4 separate regions of the Homo sapiens genome follow, and regions 2, 3 and 4 are each linked to region 1. Evidence: fine-mapped expression QTL. A gene starts in region 1. Each other region holds a variant in brackets. All regions are shown on one strand. Distances are between the middles of the regions. Region 1 holds the start of KIF13B (kinesin family member 13B). Region 2 overlaps KIF13B (kinesin family member 13B). Region 3 overlaps HMBOX1 (homeobox containing 1). Region 4 overlaps KIF13B (kinesin family member 13B).

Region 1 (6,057 bases):
CATGGCAAAGGTGACTTCAACACTAAATAAGAGCAAAAGAACAGTAGGGCAAAACAATTTCAATATAAAATCATACCCTTTATGATCTTTTTTAAAAAAAAAAAAAGATAGTGATGGTAGATAGTAATTTTTGTGTGCATTCTTTTTCAAATAATTTACTCGGTGACCTAGCACAATGGCTCACACCTGTAATTCCAACACTTTGGGAGGCTGAGGTGGGAGGATCACTTGAGGTCATGGGTTCAAGACCAGAGTGGGTAACATAGCGAGACACTGTTTCTACAAAAAATTTAAAAATCAGCTGGGCATGGTGGTGCATGCTTGTAGTCCCAGCTACTTGGGAGGCTAAGGTGGGAGGATCGCTTGAGCCTGGGAGGTTGAGGCTGCAGTGAGCTAAGATGGTGCCACTGCACTCCAGCCTGGGCACAGAATGAGACCCTGTCTCAAAAAAATATATACTTGCTAAAATTAAGAAGCTGTCATAGTGTCAAACACTGAGATTGGCAATCCTAATTTGGTTATCCTGATGTTGTTTACTTTATTGGGCTGTGAAAATCAAAGGACCTGCTGCACTAAACCCACTGCTGGTCTAGATGAGACCTCCTGAAGTGCAGAGGCAGTGCCCCTAAGAAAGAAATTTCCTTTTTTAAAAAAGAGGGCCTTCTGGGGTAGCATTTTCTATTTTTAACCTTTTTTGAAATTTTGATAAAAAACACGTAACATAAAACTTACTATTGGCCAGGCACAGTGGCTCACACCTGTAATCCCAGCATTTTGGGGGGGCTGAGGTGGGTGGATCACTTGAGGTCAAGAGTTTGAGACCAGCCTGGCCAACATGGTGAATCCCCATCTCTATTAAAAATATAAAAATTAGCTGTGTGTGATGGTGCACACCTGTAATCCCAGTCACTCTGGAGGCTGAGGCAGGAGAATCACTTGAACCCAGGAGGCAGAGACTGCAGTGAGCAGAGATCATGTCACTCACTGCATTCCAGCCTGGGCGACAGAGCAAGACTCCATCTCAAACAAACAAACAAACAACAACAAAAAGCTTACCATCTTGGCTGGGTGTAATGGCTCACACCTGTAATCCTAGTGCTTTGGGAGGCTGAAGTGAGGAGGATTACTTGAGGCCAAGAGTTCAAGACCAGCCTGGACAACATAGCGAGACTCCATCTCTACCAAAAAATGAAATATAAAAATTAGCTAGGTGTCGTGGTGCGTACCTGTAATTCCATCTAGGTGAGAGGCTGAAGCAGGAAAATCGCTTGAGCCCAGGAGTTTGAGGCTGCAGTGAGCTATGATCACACCACTGCACTCCAGTCTGGGCAAACAGAGCGAGATCCTGTCTCTAAAAAAACCCAAAAAACCTTACTGCCTTAACCACTCTTAAGTGGTTAGGTGGCGTTAAGTACATTTACATTGTTGTGCAACCATCACCACCATTCATTTCCGCAGCTGAAATCTTCCCAAGCCGAATCTCTGCACCCATTGAATACTAACTCCTCATACCCCCTTCTCCTAGCCCTTAGTAACCTCCAGTCTACTTTCTATCTCCATGAATTTGACTACCATGTGTATCTCATATATGTAGAACCATGCAGTGGTTGTTCTTTTGTGTCTGGCTTATTTCACCTAGCATAATGTTTTCAAGGCCCATCATCCATGTTGCAGCATGTTTCAGAATTTCCTTTCTTTTAAAGGTATTTTTAGACCGGACACAGTGGCTTATGCCTGTAATCCCAGCACTTTGGGAGACTGAGGTGGGTGGATCACCTGAGGTCAGGAGTTCGAGACCAGCCTGGTCAACATGGCAAAACTACGTCTCTACTAAAAATATGAAAATTAGCCAGGATTGGTGGCACATGCCTGTAATCCCAGCTACTGTCGAGGTTGAGGCATGAGAGTCGCTTGAAGCCAGGAGGTGGAGGTTGCAGTGAGCCGAGATCATGCCACTGTACTCCAGCCTGGGTGACAGAGCTAGATCCATCTCAAAAAAAAAAAAGTATTTTTATACTTTTTGACAACATTGCTTGTATTGAAGATACTCAATAACAGGATGGTTGGTAAAAGGGCAAGTCTTACCAGCTTTCTGTATTTACTCATCTGTAAAATGGTTCTGAGTTCTATTACTATCATTTAAACACATCTAAGCAGGGGTCACAAACCCACAAGGTCCAGGCGCATGTGTGGTAAAGCCACCTGGAGGGGGGCCGTGGTGAAGTGGAGAGACGGGTCTCTGATAAAGGTGGCTGCTGCTATTTAGTTCCAATCCACTCTGTCCAATATGTAATGTAGGCCCAGTACTGCATGCACAAATCTGATTTCACACTCTGTTACCCAAGCTGGTCTCAAACTCCTGGCCTCAAGCAATCCTCCTGCCTCAGCATCCTAAAATGCTGGGATTCCAGGTGTGAGCCCCTGCACCTGGCCACAAATCTGATTTTTATGTGTTGGCCAACACTGTTGGGCCAAACAGAACATGTTTGCGTGCTGGCTCTGGCACCCAGGCCACCTGTTAGAATGTCTGCCAGGGCTAATAAAAAGCTAATTTTAGTGTGGCCTCATTCATTAATTCATGCAATTAATGTTTATGGGTCTCTACTAAAGGCTAGGTTACACATATGTTAATCTTATTTAAAAATGTACCTATTTTACTAGGTATTAGTATCATATCCACTTTTCATATTAAAGACAAGCCCAGAGCGGTCAAATAACTTGCCCCTGGTCACACAGTGGGAAGCGCTGAGGTGGGCTTTGAACTCAGATGGTTTTCAGAGCCCAAGGTCCTGTCTCAAAGGAGGGGGACTCACAGGACAATGTTAACCCGTGGACCTATGGACACTCCCAGAAAACGTGATTTGCAACTTGTCGTGAAGGACGAGCTCAGCAAACAAGGCCGGACGTCAATCCAGGCAGAGGAAATAACTTGAGCCAGGGATCAAACACTAAGATTGGCAGGAAATGAGCAGGAAGAGGTAGCGGGGTCCCTGACGCCATCTATTCAATTGTTTTTCAGAAGAGGTATCAGCTCTTGAAGGCTTACTTCTCAATACTGGCTGCGAGAGCAAGAATGGTGTGTAATTTACAAAAGCCGTCATTGCTGTAGGTAAGTTGTAGCAAACGACTCGCGCCCGAGCATTCCCGCCCCCGCCTTCGCTGCGGCCCCGCCCACGACGACCCTGGGGAACTACAAGTCCCGCCATACAGCGGGGAGCGCCCGGAGCTCGCGCCGGCCCCGCCCCCAGCCCGGTCCCCACCCCCGGCTCCGCCCCCGGCCCCCTCCCGCCGGGTCAACCCCGAAGAGTCGCCGGTGGCCGCGGCAGACGGAAGCCGAACGAGTTCCTCGGCGGCTGCAGGATGGGGGACTCCAAAGTGAAAGTGGCGGTGCGGATACGACCCATGAACCGGCGAGGTGAGAGCCGAGCCCTCCTGGGCCGCCGGGGCGGAGGCGGCAGGTGCCTGGCGCGCCCTTCCCTCGGCCGCCGTGGGGGGTCCGGCGGCCCCGCCCCTATAGTCAGCGGCGGGGCGCGAGGAGGGGCCCGGGGACCCTGAAACCCGCTCCCGCGCTGAGACGCCCGGCTCCCTCTTCTCCCCTCCCTTCCCCCCTGGCCAGCCCCGTCCCTGGCGCCGTCGGGCCCCTCGTGCCGGCCCCGCTGCCCCTTCCGCCTGCGCCCGCCCCGCCCCTGCGCCCTTTTGCCCTCTCGTCTCCCCCGGAGGTTCCCGAGGGCGCCCTCGGCCCTCGCGCCCAGCCTCGTCCTGGCCCCTCAGCCTCGCTCCTTCCCCGCCAGCTGTCATCGTCGCCCCCGCGCGCGGGTCGCCAGCCCCTGCAGCCCGCCTCGGGACCGCCCGGGACCCCCCGGGACCCCGCGTCTCGCCCGGGTCGCCCAAGCCTGCACCGCCTTGGCCCGCGGCGGGAAGAAGGGCAGGGGGCCAGGCGGGTGCCCCGCGGCGAGTTCCTTCCACCTGGGCGTCCTGAGATTGGGGTCAGGTGGAGGAGATGCCCTTTTCGTTGTTTTTGGACAGTTGAGAAAGTTTTGGTTTTGCCTGAAGTCTCATTCATCATCTCTCAATAAATAGCTAAAGTGCCAAGATTCTTGTGGAATTGTATCTTTCTGACATTCTCTTAACTCTGCAGGGAGTGTAGAGAAGGCAGATAAACCGAGTACATTTAAATAATCTGTAGACCCGGGGAGTGGAGAGAACCCCAAAAGTCAGGGGAGGAGGTGGGCTGGGTCTTGGCTTTGATAGTCAAAGCAGCATGACTGGGTGAGTTGCTTTAAATAAGATAATGTGTTTGAAAACGCTTTATATACAAGGTCCTGTCATTGGGGGTCACTATTACTGTCTCAGGAGATGACTTTGCCATTGATGAGACTTTGAACTAATTAGAATCATTTAAGTACCAGAGACAAAGTTGTAGCTTCTTAGCAAAATCAAGTGTTGTTTAATTTTTATGTAGAAATTATAGGTTGTTTTCCTCTTCTTTGCTTTCTTTTGTATATATTGAGACATACAGATCAACCAGTTGACATAAGCTTTGTTGGTTTGTCCTTCTCGGGGAAATTGGTTTCTCGCTTGGAGTTATCTCATCTATGGGAATTGTTTTGTCCTGTTCCTGCTAGGTCCGATTAAAGCTGTCAGGTGAGTTTTTTTCCCTAAGAACTTAATTACTTTAAGTTCTCAACTAGTGCAAGATTGAGTCCTGCTTTGCTTCACTAATCTCGTGCTCTGACAACACACAATAAACGTCGATACAATTCTGAAAATTTTCAGAAGCATCAGTTTTTAAATATTCAGGTATCTGTATTTCAGTTTACTTCCAGTTTACCATCACAATAATTTAAAGAAAGAAGCCAAATGAAACATAACTTATCTGGGAATTGATTCTGAAAGGATGGTTTCAGCACATTCTTAAAATTTCCTTTTCACAAAAAACTTGGAAATGTCAGTGCTAAAAAGAGGCCGCTAACCAACCACCACAAAAGACATCTCAGATATTTAGAGCCCTTTCCCTCTCCCTTTCCCCATTGGTTTCACTTTTTGAGGGAAATTCTTATGCTTTTCTCTTATAAATTGCCATTGATAAGGTTGTAATAAACATCAGAGTTTAGAGGAAGGCAAAGAATAATAGTTTTAGCTGTGGAACGGATGTGAGCTGATCCTTGGGTTCAACAATCATTTTGAAATTGAGGTTTACCCATAGATTCCATTAGCCTATATAGAGAAGTGCATTATTTGGTGTAAAGTACCTCCTGTGTTCACTTAGTGCCCATTCTTAGCCTTATATTTCCTGACGTGCATGTGGACTTCTTTTTTCAGTGATTACCACACATAAATTTGTTCTTTTCCATTTTTGTTATGAAGTAATTGTTCACATAAATATAAAGGTTATTATGGAATACAGTGTGGTGGGATTGTAAATCCAGTGATTTTTAAAAATTGGTGTCCAAAGTTTGTATAAAAAGACTAAAACAGGCCAGGCACGGTGGCTTACGCTTATAATCCCAGCACTTTGGGAGGCCGAGGCGGGTGGATCACCTGAGGTCAGGAGTTCGAGACCAGCCTGCCTAACATGGCAAAACCCTGTCTCTACTAAAAATACAAAAAATTAGCCGGGCGTGGTGGTGGACGCCTGTAATCCCAGCTACTAAGGAGGCTGAGGCGGGAGAATAGCCTGAACCCAGGAGGCGGAGGTTGCAGTGAGCCAAGATCGTGCCACTGTGCTCCACCCTGGGCGACAAGAGTGAAACTCTGTCTCAAAAAAAAAAAAGACTAAAACAAAACCATATTTCTTTCCAGTAATTTCCTTTTTTTTCTTCCTTGTATGATCTGTAGGAACCTTTCCAGTAATTTTGAAAAGAATATTACTTTGAACAGTTATTAGTATTATGTAATACTGTATAATTATGACAAAGAGTAAAACTTGAGTCCTAATAGTTTCTATCATATAGGTGCCGGAAGCAACCTTATAAATCGCTATCTATAAAAGAGGACGGGGATGAGAATGGGTTACTGTGATGATGTAGTTTTACTGTGTAGACTCTGATATTTGGA
Region 2 (6,057 bases), 73 kb after region 1:
CGCCACTGCACTCCAGCCTGGGCGACAGAGCGAGACTCCGTCTCAAAAAAAAGTAAAAATGTAAAAAGCAGTACAGTATGACAACTATTTACATAGCATCTACTTTGTCTTAGGTGTTTTAAGTAATCAAGAGATGATTTGAAGTATATGGGAGGATATGTGTGGGTTTTATGCAAATACTACACCATTTTATATAAGGACTTGCACATCTGTGGATTTTGGTATTCATGGGAGGTCCTGGAAGCAGTCCCACTCAGGATACTGAGGGATGACTGTATACACATGTGATAGGGCTTTTGAAGTGAGAACTAAGCTTACAAGAATCAGGATGGTTTTTACTTAGCCTTATTAAGAACAGAATTAATTAAATAAAATTATGGAGATAAGCGTGGAAAGCTAGAACAGGAGAAACTTCGTTTGAGCTCCACATTTTATTTACTCCTACTCTGCTGTAATGATTCTCACTATGGGTGACACCTGGAGTTTGCAAGGCAGCTCCCCCCAGTTTGATGCCCAGTCCTTTGGGGCCATCTTCCATCCTCCTCCTTTTGCTCCTCTGTGTTTGAAAATGGCTTAGTGAGCCACCACTGCTGATAGATATACGTTTTAGCTTTGGAAAAACATGGAGGGTGAGCAGTGTGTAACACAACACTGCAGCTGGATGATGTCTTCTGGGCCCAAGGGCTCTCAGGGGCTGTCAGCCGCTGGGGGTCTGCTTTCACTTCCTGGCCTCGCTTCCTTCTCACAGCCCCATCCAGGGAACAGGTGTCTCCCCTGCCTGCTGTTTCACACAGAGATGCAGGTGTGCCGATCCTCACCTGTCCAGAGGTGCTGAGCCAGTCGTCCTCTCGGTTGCTGCCAGGGTTATCTGCCTCCCCCTTTAGTTGCCCTTCTGGTACCTCCCAGAACTGCTCACTGGCTTTGCAGCCTGTGCTCTCCCTGCAGGCCCCCACCCTTACCCCCATCAGTTTCATTGGAACTATTTTTTCAGGAGTTTCTCAATTCTGATCCAGGCACAAGCAAGCACTCTTGGTTTCAAAACCTTGTTCTTTTTTCCCCCTTCTCTTCCTTTTTGGCAATTTCCCCACTTCCCCCATCGCCTGTCGTTTTGAGTTAATTTTAGCTGGGTGATGGATATCAGTATGCATTATTAATTTACCATCTTAACCTAATTTTCTTTCTTAAAAAAATTAACCTTTTAGACTTCTGGTCCAGATAATCTTGTGAGTTTACACAGAAACATTCTCCTGCCAACATCAAAATTATAGCAGAGATAGATAAAATATTTTAGAATGTGCGAATCATGTAATCAAACTCAAAAACAAATTTAGACTGGGCATGGTGGCTCACAGCTGTAATCTCAGTACTTGGGAGGCTGAGGCTAGAGGATTGCTTGAGGCCAGGAGTCTGAGACCAGCCTGGGCAACATAGTGAGACCCCATCTCTACACAAAACTAGAAAAACACAACAACAACATATATAACTTCAAGGACCAGCAGTAAGCGAGGGCTGAAGTGACATATTTCCAGGGCTTTGGAATCAGACCAGGTGCCTGGAGGTGATTGGAAGTTCAACTCTTGCCGACTAATGGGGGCACTGGTGTATGGTTGGGGACTGGAGCCAGGCTCACCATGTGAAAACTGATTTGGGCGAGCCTTCTCTGTGAGTGAAAGCTTACAGTCAGTTTTTGGCCACCAACATTGAGCTAATGTCTGTGTTAATAGGAAGGGATGGAGACATTGGGCCTTGAGAAGACCCAAAATCTGGGCTTCAGTAATGGAAATGACAGCATAAACTAGTCATGGAAAGGTGGCCATCAGGAGAGGAAAAAATAAGCAATCATGTAAACCATAAAATAAACACTCCCTGCTAAGATGTACCTGCAAACTAACATGCAAACCATCATCAGGAAGCATAGCAACAGACTCCCAAAGTGGGAGAATGTGACAAAATGTGAACCGAGATACATTTTAAAACAATTGCACTTAAAATCTTTACGGAGATAAAAATCACAAAACACAAGTAAGTAGATTTCAAACTGACAGAAATCGAAAAAGTGAAAGATGCAGTCAGTGAAAAATTTGCCTTTGCTTAGTTGGTTTAAAAAGAAATAATTAGTGAAAAAGAAGCTTTTCAAACAGTGCAAAAGAACTATGTGATATTCTAGAAAGTGGTGATAAGGTGAAAGATCAAAACAGATCATCTGTAAGATCCCACCAAGTAGCATTTTAATACAGATTGTTCCTGCTTTTTATGCATATAGTTTTTTGGTACAAATATGGAATCATACTCTAGACTTTTATAACTTTTTCATTAACATAAACTTTTTTTAAATTAGTAAGTCTTCTATACCCTCAAATCTATACTTGCACATGGGCATGTCATAATTTATGTAAACATTCTGCTATTTTAAGCTATTTTGGACATGCTATAGTGAGCATCTTTAAATGTTATTTAAAAAATATCTTTTTCTTTGACTACAAAAATAAAAATATTGAAAAAATATAAAAACATGAAACAGATCACTAATTTCGCTGCAAAAAAATAAACTATAGATGTAATTCTGTGTGTGTGACTGTAGGTGCATGTGTGTGTGCAATAGCCATTTTATTACACATTTTGTGAATAGTTTTCCATGTAAAATATAGAGTCATATCACCTATAGCATGTTTAGTTCTCATTGTAAGCCTCTACATACATAATTAATTCCCATTGTATGACAGTAAGTTGTTTTATTTCACTATTATGAACAGTTCTATCAGTTATGGTTTATAAGTAATGTTGAGGTTTTCTTAACACACACTTATGTTCATTTTCAACAGGTGTTTGCTTATGATCATTGTTTCTGGTCTATGGATGAATCTGTCAAAGAAAAGTATGCAGGTAATAGAATCCAGCATCCTGTCAACTACTGATGGTGTAGAAGAGGGGTTCAGTATTTTTTCCCTTACACGATTGCTTGGCAAACCCCCCAAACTGTGTGTTTCCTCTGCTGTCACACCACAATAACAGTCATCAACACAGAAGATGACTTAATGTGACCAAATGTTGGGGGAGTTTTCCCTGCACCCCAAGCGGCAGACACTGGCTGGGTGTCCTCTAACTCAGTTCCGATGCTCTCTACCTGGGGACAGCGTCAGATCCACAGACTGAGGGCTCAGTCCCACAAGACCGCTCCCTCCTTCCCACCAGCGCAGGTCCAGGCCTCTAGAACTTCTGACCTACTGGCTTCCAATTAGGGTTCCCACAACCTCCTCTTTGGGTTTGATTAATTTCCTAGAGCGGCTCACAGAACTCAGGGAAACACTTGTGTTTAGGGGTTTATTACGAGGGATTTTCTTTAAAGGAGACAGGTAAACAGCCAGATGAAGAGATACAGAGGGTGAG[A/G]TCTGGAAGGGTCCCAAGCGCAGGAGCTTCTGTCCTCATGGAGGTGGCGCGGCGCCCTCCCGGCGTGTGGATGAGTTCTTACCTTCCTATTGGGCCCTGTGTGTTTAGCAATCCAGAAGCTCTCTGAACCCAGTCCTTTTAGGTTTTTATGGAGGCTTCCTTATATAGGCATGATTGTCAACCGATTAGAAATGTGATTTGACAAAAAGTGCATGACTGAACACAGCACGTCCTGTCTGTTCAGACTTTTCTTGGCCATTCTGTGTAGCATTCCTTCCTTTAGGATATGAGGCAAGACCTTGTGGAATGAGAAGCTCTTGACCCACAATCAGATGAGAGTCTTGCCTCCGGCAGGTAAAAGGAGGGCAGGAGATCAGATAGTTTCCTGAGGCTAAAATGCCCCAACATGTAAAAGACTGCAACAAGGGTTAATGAGCCAGGAACTGCGGATGGTAACCTACATCTCTATAATTACCATAGGATATATATGAGTACCATAGGATTCTTTTGCATAACTGTAGAAAGTACAGACAACACCCTCCCGTGTTTGCTATTAGAGTTTTTAATGTTGATTGGAAAATGGGAGATTCACTGTGTGCCATTCTTGGTATACGTTGATGAAATTACATCACTAGTACACACAGTGGCTATTCCACATTCACACGCCCCAGCTCTTACATGAGGCCGGGAGCACAAGGTCGCCCCTTAGATTGCCCTGGAGGCCTGAGACTGGGCTGGAGAGACAGGATGGCATAGTGAAAGAAGGGGAGCACCGGCCAAGGAGAAAAGGAACCCTAGGCTGCAGGCCCAGCCCTGCTTCTTACCGCCCCTGCGCCTTTCAGTAAATCACCTCACCTGTCAGAGCTTCAGTTTTCTCTTTTTGATGGAAAGGAATATGCCATATTCTCTCTAAATTTTCTTTTGGCTCTGGAAGTCTGTTACTCTATTATTCTTCTAAATGATGACTGTCTCAAGCCCCATCTCACCACAAGTTTAGGACTGCAGTGACAGCCTTTGATTGCCTTTATTCCTTACTGCTTTTGTCGCCTGTTTTTAAACAATCTCTTTTAAATATTAAGCATCATATTGTTTTGGCTTCTGTTATGAGAAAGATGAATATTATGGCTGTTTTGAAGTTAAGATTCATTTGGTCTAGGTGGCCCAATATCAGAAGTATAAGTTAACTGGTATTAAAAAAAAAAAAAAAGGAAATGAGACATAATGGAATACCCTTGCCATAACATAAAAGCATCCAGTTCTTCCATGTGGTATTGAGACTAAGTGAGGTAGGGTGACTTGTCAGATTCACATTCAATTACTGACTAGTGACATATCTCATTTGGCCTGTCGGGGAGAATTTGACTCTGTTCTTTATGTCCATGATTGAAAGCTGAGGGAAATTTCCAGGCTCTGACTCCCTGTCCTAACTGGTATGTGTTGTAGATCCTGTAATTAGAAATTGTCACTGAGGGAAAGGAGAGGGGGTTGGTATATATGATTATTCTAAACTCTGGTACCCACCGAATAAAAGCATTGCCTGAGTGGTAAATAGTTAAGTCCAGGTACACCTGGGTCCCAAGTATAAATTTCAGATATTTATAATCATTGATTATAAAGTGAGCAGCTCATTGGCTCTGCATTGCAGGGGATTCTTAGTCGTGTTTATTTATTCAAGCATGTATTACAGGGAGCTGATTTTCCCTCATGTGCTAACTAGAAATAACCTGGAAGGCATAAGCCTTTGGGAGCATTCGTCAAATTTAAAAATCTTGTTTGGAGATAAATAAGCAGATTATACATTTTTGAGATTTTTGTTTTTGTTTTGTGAATTGTTCATATGTAGTTTTGGCTTAAAATATCTTTTCTCTTATTCTCTCTCTCTCAGGTCAAGATATTGTTTTCAAGTGCCTTGGAGAGAATATCCTGCAGAATGCTTTTGATGGCTACAATGCATGTATCTTTGCCTATGGACAGACTGGTAATGTTAAATAACATGAAATCACATAAACAACCATCAATGAAAGAAAATAGAACCATGTTTATTTTACTGAGTAACATTGCTGATTTATTCCTTGTTGTTTTTGCTTTCAGAAAGTACTGTAGATGTTGAAAGTAGTCAGTAACATTATTTTAAAATGAGTGTAATAAAATTAGGATTGGGATCTTTTATCTTTACTGATTTTTCTCACAAGGCACTGGCAGCATTGTTTTTCGAAAAAATACAGAGCTATGACTGTTGAACACATTACTAGCCATGCCTATAGATCATGCTTTTTTAAGGCTTTCAGAACCATAACAGATAAAATACCAAAAAGAACATACTTGTTAATATCTCACCAGTAATAACTAAGAAGCTTTTTGGCTTTTGAGTCTCTGTGGTCAAGAAAAGAAAATTTGAAGTGAACTAGTTACTTTTGTAAGAGTAAAGTATACAGCTTGTCCAACTAGAAATGTTCTCACAGAAGAATGTGTTGGATATTTTCAAGAAGCCTCATGTGTCGTGTTGAAAGGGCAGAAAGCTGGGGCCAGGCGGCGACAGCTCCAGTCCTGCTCCTGCAGCTGGCCAGCAGAGAGACCTGGGCAGTTACTTAACCTCTCTGCCCTTCAGCGTCCTTATCTGGAAAGGCTGATGATCATAGACCTTCTTGTAGGGTTGTCATAACGAGTTCC
Region 3 (6,057 bases), 300 kb after region 1:
ATCCCAGCTACTTAGGAGGTTGAGGCAGGAGGATTACTTGAGGCCAGGAGTTCAAGGCTAGTTTGGGCAACACGTTCAAGGCTAGTTTGGGCAACATGATGAGTCCCTGTCTCAAAAAAAAAAAAAGAAAAAAGAAAAAAAAAAAAAAAAAATAAAATGACACCCATTCGAATGCCTATTATTTATAAAAATAAACATAAAATAACAAGTGTGGCAATAATGTGGAGAAAATGGAATCCTTGTATATTGCTGGCTGAAATGCAAAATGGTGAAGCCACTATGGAAAACAGTATGGCAGTTCCTCAAAAAACTAAATACAGAATTACCATATGATCCAGCGATTCCACTTTTGGATATCTATCCAAAAGAAGTGGAATCAGGCTGTGTTCACAGCAGCATTATTCACAAAAGCCAAATGTGGGAATAACCCAAATGTCCACTGGCAGATAAATGGATAAATGAAATGTGATATATATACAAACAGAATATTGTCCCAGCCTTTAAAAGGAAGGAAACTCTGACACAAAAACATGAATGAAACTTGAAGACATGATGCTAAGCGAAACAACCCAATCACAAAAGGTCAAATATTATATGATTCCATTTACATGAGGTACCTAGAGTAGTCAAATTCACAGAGACAGAAAGTAGCATGGTGGGTAAAATGGGCAAGGAATAATGAGAAGTTATTATTTAAGGGTACAGAGTTTCAATCTGTGAGGATGAAAATGTTCTGGAAATGGATGGTGGTGACTGCTGTATACTGTATGTATTTAATGCCACTGAACTATATACGTTAAAATGGTAGATTTTATGTTATGCATATTTCAACACAATAAAAAAGTAGAACATTATAATAAAAACTTTATATTAAAAGGCATTAGGGATATAAATTTATGGATGCTGGATCACATTCAAGCACCTGGCCATAGAAAACAAGCAACCTATAAAAGAAAAAGAGAGGCTGGGCCTGGTGGCTCATGCCTGTAATCCCAGCACTTTGGGAGGCCAAGGCAGACAGATCATGAGGTCAAGAGATCGAGACCATCCTGGCCAACATGGTGAAACCCCGTCTCTACCAAAAACACAAAAATTAGTTGGGCATGGTGGCATGCACCTGTAGTCCCAGCTGCTCAGGAGTCTGAGGCAGGAGAATCGCTTGAATCCGGGAGGCAGAGGTTGCAGTGAGCCAAGATCACACCACTGCACTCCAGCCTGGCGACAGAGCAAGACTCCGTCTCCAAAAAAAAAAAAAAAAAAAAAAAAAAAAAAAAAAAAAAAGAAAAAGAAAAAGAAAAAGAGAATAAGTTTACAATTATAAAATATACAGTTTATGACCAAGATATAAGAGTTACAAACACAAAGACCAAATAACATGAGAGGTAATAAAGCAAAAATCATAACTACTTTAATAATTTTTTTTTAAAGTATAAACATGAGTTATTTCAGTATACCTTTTAGAATGAACAAATATAGTTGGAGAAAATTTAAAAAACAGAAATTTGATATATTATCAATAAACATAATTTTAAAGATAAAAAGATACTTTGTAAACCTTCTAACAAAGAAGTTTTTTTTTCCCTATGTCCATTACCATAATTGATCACAAACACGGTAAAACAAAAGGTTTAATTTCATATATATAATCCAAACAATCTAGGGAAAAATGTACAAAAATAACTACTTATAAACTACAAGATAATCATAAATAACCCTTGGATCAAAGAAGAAACCACAAAAGAAATTATGACCAACATAACAATACACTGTGACAAAAAAGAGGATTGTTCTTCATAACAAAAATCCAGGCCAGGCACGGTGGCTCATTTTTAAAAGTCAAAAGAAAAAATAGTACTTAAAAAATAGAAAAATAAAATACTGTACACCAAAATAAGCTAGAAAAATGGAACTAAGAAATAATATTTGAAATTAATATAAAATGAAGCTACAGAAGGCATAAGTAAGTCCAAATGTTGGCTCTTTGAAAGACTATTAAATAATTACACAGAAAGTCTAATAAAGAGAAAAGAGAGAAAAAAACTGGTAAGATTCAGAAGGAAAAGAAAAATACAGCCATAGTATTGGGGGAAAAAAACCCTAAGAAATTATAAATGCAACTGCATGACAATTCATTTAAAAACCTAAAAGAGAAAAACGATTTCCCAGTAAAACAGAATATATCAAAATTGACCAAAAAATAAACTCTTTAGTCAAACCAAATAGAGTAAAATAAAGGTAATTAAGAATCTATAGAAAGAGGCATCAAAATCAGCTGAGTTCTCAGCAGACTTAATCTATTTAAAAAACATAATTCTAATAATACTAAACTATAGAAAAATACAGGAAATGTTCCAATCCATTTTATGCAGCCAGAATTATTCAACAGCAAACCTAATAAAGGTAGTATACAGAACATACCATTTCACTTAAAAATTAAATGTAAAAGATCTAAGTAAAAACTCACATTAGACTATAGAGTGTAGGACATATGAGAAATAATACAGTAGTCCCCCACTTTATCTGCTGTTTTACTTTGGCTTTCTGTGGTTTCAGTAACCTGCAGTAACCATGGTCCGAGAATATTACGTGGAAAATTCCAGAAATAAACAATTCATAAGTTTTAAAATGTGAGCCACTCTTAGTAACTTAGAAACCTCATGCTCCTCCTTCAGGGCATCCACACTGTAGACCCTACCTGACCCTTACTCACT[C/T]ACTAGCTGTCTAGCTTATCACACTGACTGTCCTGGTATCTAACAGTGCCCCTGTTTAAGTAATACTTATTCTACAGAATGATGGCCCCAAAGCTCAAGAATAATGATGCTGGCAATTTCAATACACCAAACAGAAGCCAAAAGTGCTTCCGTTCAGTGAAAAGGTGAAAGCTCTCAACTTAAGTTAAAAAAAAAAAATCATATGCTGAGATTACTAAGATCTATAAGAAGAATGAATCTTCTGTGAAACTGTGAAGAAGGAAAATGAAATCTGTGCATAGTATACACAGAGTCTGATACTATCTGCAGTTTCAGGCATCTACTGGGAGTCTTAGAATGTATTCCCGGTGGATAAGGGGGGTCCATTGTATACCACTATAATTTACGCAGAAATGCAAGAGTGGTCCATCTTTAGGAAATCAACATAATCCAATATATCAACCAATTTAAGGCAGAGAAATTACATGATTATATCAATAGATGTTGAAAAGGCATTCAGTAAAACTTAGCCATTTTAAACAAAAAACTATGGAAAAGAAGACTAGAGAAAAAAACACTCTGGTAAAAACATAAGAAGGGCAAATATTATTCTAAACAGCAAAACACTAAAAGCATTTCAAATAAAATTAAGATTGCATGCACACACAATAAATATATATAGAGAGAGTATCTATGTGTGTAATTTCACTTTTATATGCATAAAATAATCTGTGGAAGAGATCCAATAACAGTGGTTACTTTGAATGCAGGGTTAGGAACTACAGAGATTACGGAGAGGAATGGGAAGGAAGCTGTTCATAGGAAGCTTTTTTAAAAAATTATTTTAACCATGTGAATGTTATTACCTATACAATAAATCAAACGAATAAAATTAGGAATTAGAGTGAGAAGCCCACTAAATCCTTTATAAGTAAACACTGACTTAAAGTTTACAGGAAAAATGGTAAGACAGAAAAGAATTAACTGGCAAAAATATTGGAATAAAAGAGAAAAATATCTTTTTGTCAATGATTTGGCAATACAATGTCTAGAAAACTCAAGCAATTATATTTTTAAAAAACTGAAAATTAGCTGTCTGCAGTGGCTCACGTTTGTAATCCCAGCGGCTCAGGACACTGAGGCAAGAAGATTGCTTGAGGCCAGGAGTTCAAGACTATCCTGGGCAATATAGCAAAACCTCGGTATCTTTCAAAACAAAATAAAACCAAACCCTGAAATAAAAGAAATTATTAAATTGAGATATGATACAATACTTTTAAAATTAAGTTTCTCTAATTGAGCAGGAAACATCTAGAAAAAGAATGGGAAAGAGATTTTCATTGACAGGGATAGCCTTTCCCAATATTTATGAATAACTATATTGAGAAAGAAGCCAAAAAGGTTTTCCTTTCAATTTAAAAATAGGACCTAGGCTGGGCGTGGTGGCATGAACCACCTGTAATACCAGCACTTCGACAGGCTGAGGCGGGCGAACCACTTGAGGTCAAGAGCTCGAGACCAGCCTGGCCAACATGGTGAAACCTCGTCTATACTAAAAATACAAAAATTAGCTGGGCATGGTGGCACACACCTATAATCCCAGCTACTCAGAAGGCTGAGGCAGGCGAATCGCCTGAACCCAGGAGGCTGGGGCTACAGTGAGCCGAGATCGTACCACTGCACTCCAGCCTGGGCGGCAGAGCAAGACGCTATCTCAAAAAATAATAACAATAGTAAAAATAAATAAATAAAAATAGGACCTAATAGAGCAGAAAGGCTTTGTTTTTCAACTTTTATTTTAGACTCAAGGGGTACATGTGCAGGTTTGTTACAAGGGTATATTGCATGATGCTGAGATTTGGGGTACAACTGAACCCATCACTCAGGTAGTGGGCATAGTACCCAACAGTTATTTTTTCAACCTTTGCCCCGATTTCCTCCTTCCCCACTCCTGGAGTCTCCAGTGTCTACTGCTCTCATCTTTATGTGCACGTGTACCCAAAGTTTAGCACCCACTTATAAGTGAGAACATGCAGTATTTAATTTTGTTTCTGCATTAATTCACATAGGATAATGGAGTCCAGCTGTACCCACATTGCTGCAAAGGACATGATTTTGTTCTTTTTTTATGGGTAGCATTCCATGGCATAAATGTACATTTTCTTTATCCGTTCCACTGTTGATAGGGACCTACGCTGATTGCATGTCTTTGCTATTGTGTATAGTGCTGCAATGAACACATGGGTGCATGTGTCTTTTTGGTAGAACAATATATTTTCCTTTGGGTTTATACCCTCCACGCCCAGGCCATTGTTGGTTCTTTGAGGACTCTCCAAATTGCTTTCTACAGTGGCCTTGCCAACGTCTGTTGTTTTTTGACTTTAATAATGGCCATTCTGACTGGTGTGAGATGGTATCTCACTGTGGTTTTGATTTGCATTTCACTGATGATTAATGATAAGCATTTTTTCATGTTTGCTGGCTGCTTGTAAGTCTTCTTTTGAGAAGTGTCTGCTCATGTCTTTTGTCCACTTTTTAATGGGGTTAGAGCAGACAGTTTAAGAACTACTAAGAAAATTGTGCAAAAGAAGAAAACCAAAAGTGGACTTCTCTGACCAGATAATCAGAAATACATTCAAAAGCCACTGTAATGAAATCAATATGGCACTGGCATAGAAACGCACACACAAATGAGCAGGACAGAATAAAGATCTTAATTATAGATTACAGCACATATGGCACAATGTGCTATCAAAGGTTACATTTTAATTCAGCAGGAAAGAATACATATTTTTTAAAATTATAATAAAAAAACTGGTTATCATCTAGCAAAAAAAACAATTGCATTTTTATCTTACATTATATGTAAAAAATAAGTATCAGGCAGAATAAAGACAAATGTAAAAAATAAATCATAGTAATACATCTACAACAAAATTTAGAAGATGACAGGTCTTGTAGATATGCTTAACAAAGACCAGAAACTTCAAAAGATAAACAAAACGTTAAAAATTTCCTATTATGAAGAAAAAAAAAACTTAAGCAGTTAAACTGGAAAAAACATGACATGTAGAGAAAGAGCAGATCCAAGTTATCAAGTTTATTCAAAAAATACTCAAATGCACTAGAAGTCAAGGAAATAACAGTTTAACAATGAGATATCACTTCAGTAAAAATTTAACAGACATATCTTCAATCATACTACCATATTTCATTGGTCTAAATGTGATTATGACATCATTTGGAAAGAAATATAGTGATATATATTAAAATTTAAAGAGCTTACACCTTTAATTTAGCAATCCTACTCCTGAGAATCAATTCTACAGAAATAAAAGTAACCATACATAAGGAAATATATACAAGA
Region 4 (6,057 bases), 170 kb after region 1:
TCTCTCTGCTCTTTCTGAGAATCTAATTACTCATAGGTTAGATTGTTTAATATTGTCCTACAGGTCACAGAGGCTCTGTTCTTTTTTTTTTTTTTAATCTTTTTATTTTTTCTAGTTGGATAATTTTTTTCTGTGATTTCCAGGGCTCTGTTAAGCACATCCAGGGAATTTTTTCATTTCAGTCATTGTTTTTTTTTCAGTTCTAGAATTTCCATTTGCTGCTGCTTTTCTAGTTTTAATTTCTCCGCTGATGTTCCTGGTCTGTGCACTTGTCAAGACTGTATTCTCCTTTGCATCTTTGGACTTGGTTAAGAAAGCTGCCTTAAAGTCGTTGTCTGTTAAATCCAGTATCTAGACATCTCATGGTCTATTTTTATTGATTCCTTTGTTGACCGTGGGTCATATTTAATGTTTTACCAAATGTATTTGTATATATCCATGTGATTCATACCCCAGTCAAAATATAGGACATTGACATGACTCCAGTTAATTCCCATTCCCTGTGGTCAGCCAGTGTTCTGACGACTACTTCTCTAGATTACTTCTGCAGTTTCATAAATGGGGCCATATGATGTATGTCCTTTTTGTGTCTGTCTCTTTTGCTTACCATACGTGTTAAATTTTCCCAGATTGTTGATTGCATTAGTCATTTATTTTTTATTGGTGAGAAATACTTCACGACCATGCATTGTGTTTGTTGAAGAAACTAGGTTCTTGTAGAGTAGACTGGCACAGTAGGCCAGGTTCTTGCACAGCAGATTCTGTTCATTCTTACTTTTCCTGTTGTGTTCCCGTGAGACTGTTGAAACGCAATTCTGTCCCCTGTATTGCCTGTGAACTGGTAGGTAGAGCTAGATCCTTGATTCGATTCAGCTGATTTGAGAAGGATGCATGTGGTAGGGTGGGTGGGTGTGGATGTGTGGTCGGGAGGTTGGAGACACATAATGTCTGATGGTCTCATTTAGTGATATGTGCGGCCTTTGATTCATTACTGGCTAGATTTTTACTTAATGAGGGATTGTCCTTACTCTAGAATGTTAGTTTAATTTGATACAGAACTCTAGATTGTAATTTTTTTCCTCATCTTTGAAATAATTGTATATTTTTGGATCTTTATTCATCTTAACCCTATTTTATTTTCTGTCTCCTCTCTTATTTTTCTCATCCTTGTTTTTGTCTTGCTGTAAATAATTGGACTTTTCTAAACTGAGGTATGATGTATCTCTCGGCTCGGTATAGCCATCTCTTTGCTTTTTTATTTTTCAGTGGTCGCCCTCATGATTACAATGTACATCTTTAACTTTTTGCCGTATACTTACACTTAATATTCTACTGCTTTATGTAAAATGTAGAAACCTTACAGCTGTATCCATCCATTTACCAACTGAATTGCCAGTAAGTTTGGAATCCTTTCAGGGTTAGTGTGGAGAAGAGATCTGGGGGGAGTTGTGTGCATCTGTTGAGGCAAATGTATTCCTTAAGGTGACTTGCTTGTTCATTTCTAAATGTTGTGTGAATACGGCTTTTTATCACTTATGACTTGGGATTAGATTTTACTATAAATTAATAGGGGGAAGAAGTCTTAGTATATCATAAGTATACCTGTCTGTACCTCTGATCCCAGTCTTTGGAAATTAACAGCAGGTAAGAACGTAAGTTGTTCAGGGCGTCTCTCCCTGACTTTTAACAAACAACTCAAACACTACCCTTTACCCTTTTCCCAAAAGGTCAGTTTCATCATCTTCCTTCAGTAGTTATGAAAAATTAGATTGAATAAGACATAGTCCCTGACTTCAAAGAGCTTAAAGTCTAGACAAAGAGCTATACATCTGTGTCATTGGCAGTGTGACTTAAAAACCAATCCCATTTTATTCTAGGGCAGAAGTGAATGCTTGTGCCAATTAGTGACAGGATAGAGGTGAATTACTGTTCTGATGCTGATAGGAACACTGCATACTAGAGCATTTTGGCAGCACCCCAGTTACTGCTATTTAATTGAAAAAGAGACATTACTATGTTTGAGGGAAATTATGTAAACTACAATAATACTGTGTTTCTCTAATATTTTTTAAGGATACCTTTGGTTTTTGTTAGATTTGCTGACAAGTGATGTCTGTCAAATGTACAGGAAAGAAGATGTCTATGTAATTGTATTTGTTTTATCTTTTTCCCCTGTAATATGGGCAGGACTCAGTAACCTTGCAGCATCCTACTTGAATCCTGTCAAATCCTTCGTGCCGCAAATGCCAAAGCTCCTCAAGTCTCTCTTTCCC[G/A]TCCGCGATGAGAAGAGGGGCAAGCGGCCGTCTCCCCTCGCACACCAGGTAAAAAGCACCGAGAAAACAGCTGTGAACGTTTTTCTAATAAAGCGGTGCTCTGTGTTGCGCCAAAGCTGGAGGTGGAGGTGCGGCCTCTGGGTTGGGGCTAAACTGGGTTTTTAAACCCAGAAACAGCTGTCGGTCTTTTCTCCGCCACTCTCTTCAGAGATAACAGAGCTGTTTAAACTTACGGACACACTCCTTCCTTTCTGCTTTTAAGAAGTGCCAAGGACACTGCTAATGTGATGTATGGTAATAACACTTAGAGCAGCGGTAGTAAAATTTATGAAGTGCACTTAGCATTGTTTGTGTATTGCCAAGTAGAAAATGTAATTCTATTTTTATTTTTTGATTTCATTTGTTTTTTCAAACAATTTTATATCATGAGTGCCCTTCCCTCTCAACCTCTGTTTTCTCTGCTGTGGATAACCTGTTCTTTCACTGAAAAGTGATCACCTGTCTTATATCCTTTTCTCTTAAAACTCTTTACCCAGCTCTAGGGTAAGTGTTAGAGCAAATGCGAAAAGGTTTTCCAAACAATCAGGAAGCTGCTCTTATGCAATAGTGAATGGGAACCCCATTGGAAATGCAATTTCCAGCGTTATATAGGTGTTAACTCAGCAGAAAATGATAAATGAGGATTTATTTATACTCATTCAAAAACACATACAGGGCAAGTTCTGTTGTCCAAATAGGTCTTTTGACATCAGCTTCTTCACGTTCTTCTAAACATTCAAGTTGCAGTAATCCAGGTGAATCGTCTGAGACTTAACTAAAGAATTTTCTAAGTGTATGAATGCATATTCAGGGGAGAAGGAATTAGTTTTATCAGGCTGCCATGCAGATATGTAATTTTTAAAAATCTAGCTTTATATAAGCATATAAATAAGCATACACATACAGTAGATGAAACAATTAAAACCAAGATTTTACAGCTGTTTAAATTGTATTTAGACACATGGTGGGGCTTGAGAGTTACTGAAATGAATCTATGACTGCAGGAGCCAAGTCCTGTGGGGACCGAGGTAGGCAGTGATTATTTTTCCCAGTGCTTTTTTTCCCCAGAGATCCACCAGAACTGAACCAGTGGGTCATTATTTTGTACGTTATTCAGTTCTAAACTTCTGCATCATTGTTTCACAAAGTGTGATTCATGAACTGTCAGATTTAGGAGCTGTTTTAAAAAATAGTTTCTCAGCCTGCGCTGGGAACCCATAGCTAACTTGGAGAGACCTTGTAATCTGCATTTATAAGTGCCTGTCTGTGGTGATTCTTATTTTTATTCAGTGAAGTCTGCTATCCAGTGTTTTCAGTTGCTGTTTGGTGAAGGCGGAGTCATGTAGGTTGAAGGAAATTGGAATCACGTTGGAAGTCACGGAGTCAGCCTGCCATCATTACTATTCTCCTTTAAAGCTATTTTCAGTTTTCCATGTAGCAAGTCACATCACCTGCTACCTGTAGAACTTACTTATGCTCTTACTGTTTTGGCAACGAGTGATTAGCTCTCTCTGGAAGTGAGAGGAACAACAGTGTGTTAGAAACAAATGTAGTGATTGGAGAATAACTATAATGCCCAGGTTAGAGGTTACCTTGAAATATATAGAAGATTTCATAAGCAATTTTTATTCATTTACTCCAGTCTGTTCATTTATTGTTTGAGCACATATGAGCAAAGGTTTGGGAAAACTGGCCTCATACAAATATTTTGTATTTCATAAAAATATAAAATATATGGCCGAGTGCAGTGGCTCACACCTATAACCCCAGCCCTCAGGGAGGCCAAGGCAGGTGGCTCACCTGAGGTCAGGAATTTGAGACCAGCCTGGCCAACATGGCGAAACCCTGTCTTTACTACAAAAATTAGCCAGGCGTGCTCCTGTAGTCATAGCTACACAGGAGGCTATGAGAATTAGAATGAGGCTATGAGGCATGAGAATCGCTTGAACGCGGGAGGCAGAGGTTGCAGTGAGCCAAGATCATGCCACTGCATTCCAGCCTGGGTGACAGAGTGAGACTCTGTCTCAAAGTAAATAAATAAAAATAAAAATACATAAAGTATATAAATCTAAAACTGGTCTTGATGAAGATACCTGGTAGTAAAGCCAGAACATTCCAGTTGGTTTGTGAGAACTCTGCTCCTTGGAAGGCATTTCCCTTTTCTCAGGGTGGCCAGGGAGCTCCCCCTTGCCCACACCGCCTTGTCCTCATCCTGCAGACTTGGCGTCAACATAATGCTGGAAACACTTACATCTCCAGGCTTCAGTGCAACTTCCTTCGCCTGACTTCCCTTCCCTCGGTCCGCGATCCACTCCTGGGACTGTAGATTCCATCAAGTCTTTACATCCAGTGCCCAGAGCTCCAACGGGGGTGTTCTTTTTTGTTTTTAAACCTGTTTCCTTCCATGCATAAATCTCATTGAGTTCCGTGGCTTTAGCTGTTTAAACAGAGTAGCCAGAATGATCTTTCACAGCCTCACAGTCGTCAGTGGTGTGACACCTTCCAGTGTCTCCCACTGAAAGGAGTGAAATGTGAATTTCTCACTGTGGCTCACAGTGCCCTGCAGTGCCTGTACCCCGGCCTTGAATCTTCGTTCTTCTTTATTCGCTCACCAGTACTAAGCCAGATAAGCTGCCTTTTTAGCCTATAAGCATGTGAAGCGCCTTCAGTCTAAGAGCTCTGGCGCTGGCCCTGCCACCCACCCAGGCTGCTCTTCCCAAAGGCCTCCCGTAGAACATTCAGGAAAGGCCACTCTGAGGAAGGACGTCTGAGTCTAGAGTGGGCTTTGTTGAACAGCCACACCAGAACAGCTTCCACCATACATGCAGGCACTACATTACCATTTCTTTCTTTTTTTTTTTTTTTTTTGAGACAGAGTCTTGCTCTGTTGCCCAGGCTGGAGTGCAATCTTGGCTCACTGCAACCTCCACTTCCTGGGTTCAAGGGATTCTTCTGCCTCCTCCTCCTGAGTAGCTGGGATTACAGGCACCTGCCACCACGCTTGGCTGATTTTTGTATTTTTAGTAGAGACGGGGTTTCACCATGTTGGCAAGGCTGGTCTCGAACTCCTAACCTCAAATGATCTACCCGCCTCAGCCTCCCAAAGTGCTGGGATTATAGGCTTGAGCCACCACACCTGGCCCATTTCTGACCTTTTTATCGGGAGTTATTGTTTGGTTTATATGTTTATCAATTATCCCTCTCCACAATATTCCCTGAGGGCAAGGCTTGTTGTGCCAGAATGGTGCCTGGTACATAGAAGATGCAAAATGTCTATTGTTTGACATGTGAACAGATTATAATAATATTATTTTAGAGACAGGGTCTTGGTATGTCGCCCAGTCTGGAGTGCAGTGGTGCGATGATAGCTCACTGCAGCGTTGAACTCCTGGGCTCAGGGAATCCTCCACCCTCAGTCTCCCAAGGAGCTAGGACTACAAGTGCGCTCCATCACGCCCAGCTAACTTTTTAAATATTTTTATTTTTAGAGACAGAGTCTCGCTGTGTTGCCCAGGTTGGTCTTGAACTCCTGGGCTCAAGTCCTCCCGTCTGGTATCCCAAGTGGCTGGGATTATAGGCGTGAGCCACCATGCCCAGACTGTAATATTAGATTGTGGGTCCCAAGTGCTACTCAGTGGTAGACAGGACTGTGTTTACAGCTTAGAGGTGAAAGAAGCATGGCTGAGTGGGGATTAGAGGGATGAAGACATATTTAAGAACCTTCTTTTCCTAGGTTGGTGGAAGT

What was found. PIP is the estimated chance that this variant, and not a neighbour inherited with it, causes the effect. A credible set is the group of variants that fine-mapping cannot tell apart.
Region 2: its variant is the best candidate, but not a certain one, in a credible set for the expression of KIF13B in whole blood (INTERVAL, PIP 0.83).
Region 3: its variant is the best candidate, but not a certain one, in a credible set for the expression of KIF13B in whole blood (TOPMed, PIP 0.55).
Region 4: its variant is the best candidate, but not a certain one, in a credible set for the expression of KIF13B in whole blood (INTERVAL, PIP 0.78).

Annotation. Positions count from the first base shown.
Region 1 is chr8:29,260,338-29,266,394 of GRCh38, reverse strand. KIF13B (kinesin family member 13B) reads left to right here and starts at 3,325. Exons shown (of 40, transcript NM_015254.4): 1 at 3,325-3,415. The coding sequence starts at 3,361. RefSeq lists a silencer at 3,118-3,947.
Region 2 is chr8:29,187,823-29,193,879 of GRCh38, reverse strand. KIF13B (kinesin family member 13B) reads left to right here. Exons shown (of 40, transcript NM_015254.4): 4 at 2,823-2,883; 5 at 5,273-5,365. Among named protein-coding and RNA genes, the nearest start is that of KIF13B, 72 kb to the left of the region's middle. The variant A/G (reference allele first, on the strand shown) is at 3,388.
Region 3 is chr8:28,955,990-28,962,046 of GRCh38, reverse strand. The region is part of intron 1 of HMBOX1 (homeobox containing 1); the gene reads right to left. Among named protein-coding and RNA genes, the nearest start is that of HMBOX1, 69 kb to the right of the region's middle. The variant C/T (reference allele first, on the strand shown) is at 2,712.
Region 4 is chr8:29,089,009-29,095,065 of GRCh38, reverse strand. KIF13B (kinesin family member 13B) reads left to right here. Exons shown (of 40, transcript NM_015254.4): 37 at 2,188-2,321. Among named protein-coding and RNA genes, the nearest start is that of KIF13B, 170 kb to the left of the region's middle. The variant G/A (reference allele first, on the strand shown) is at 2,274.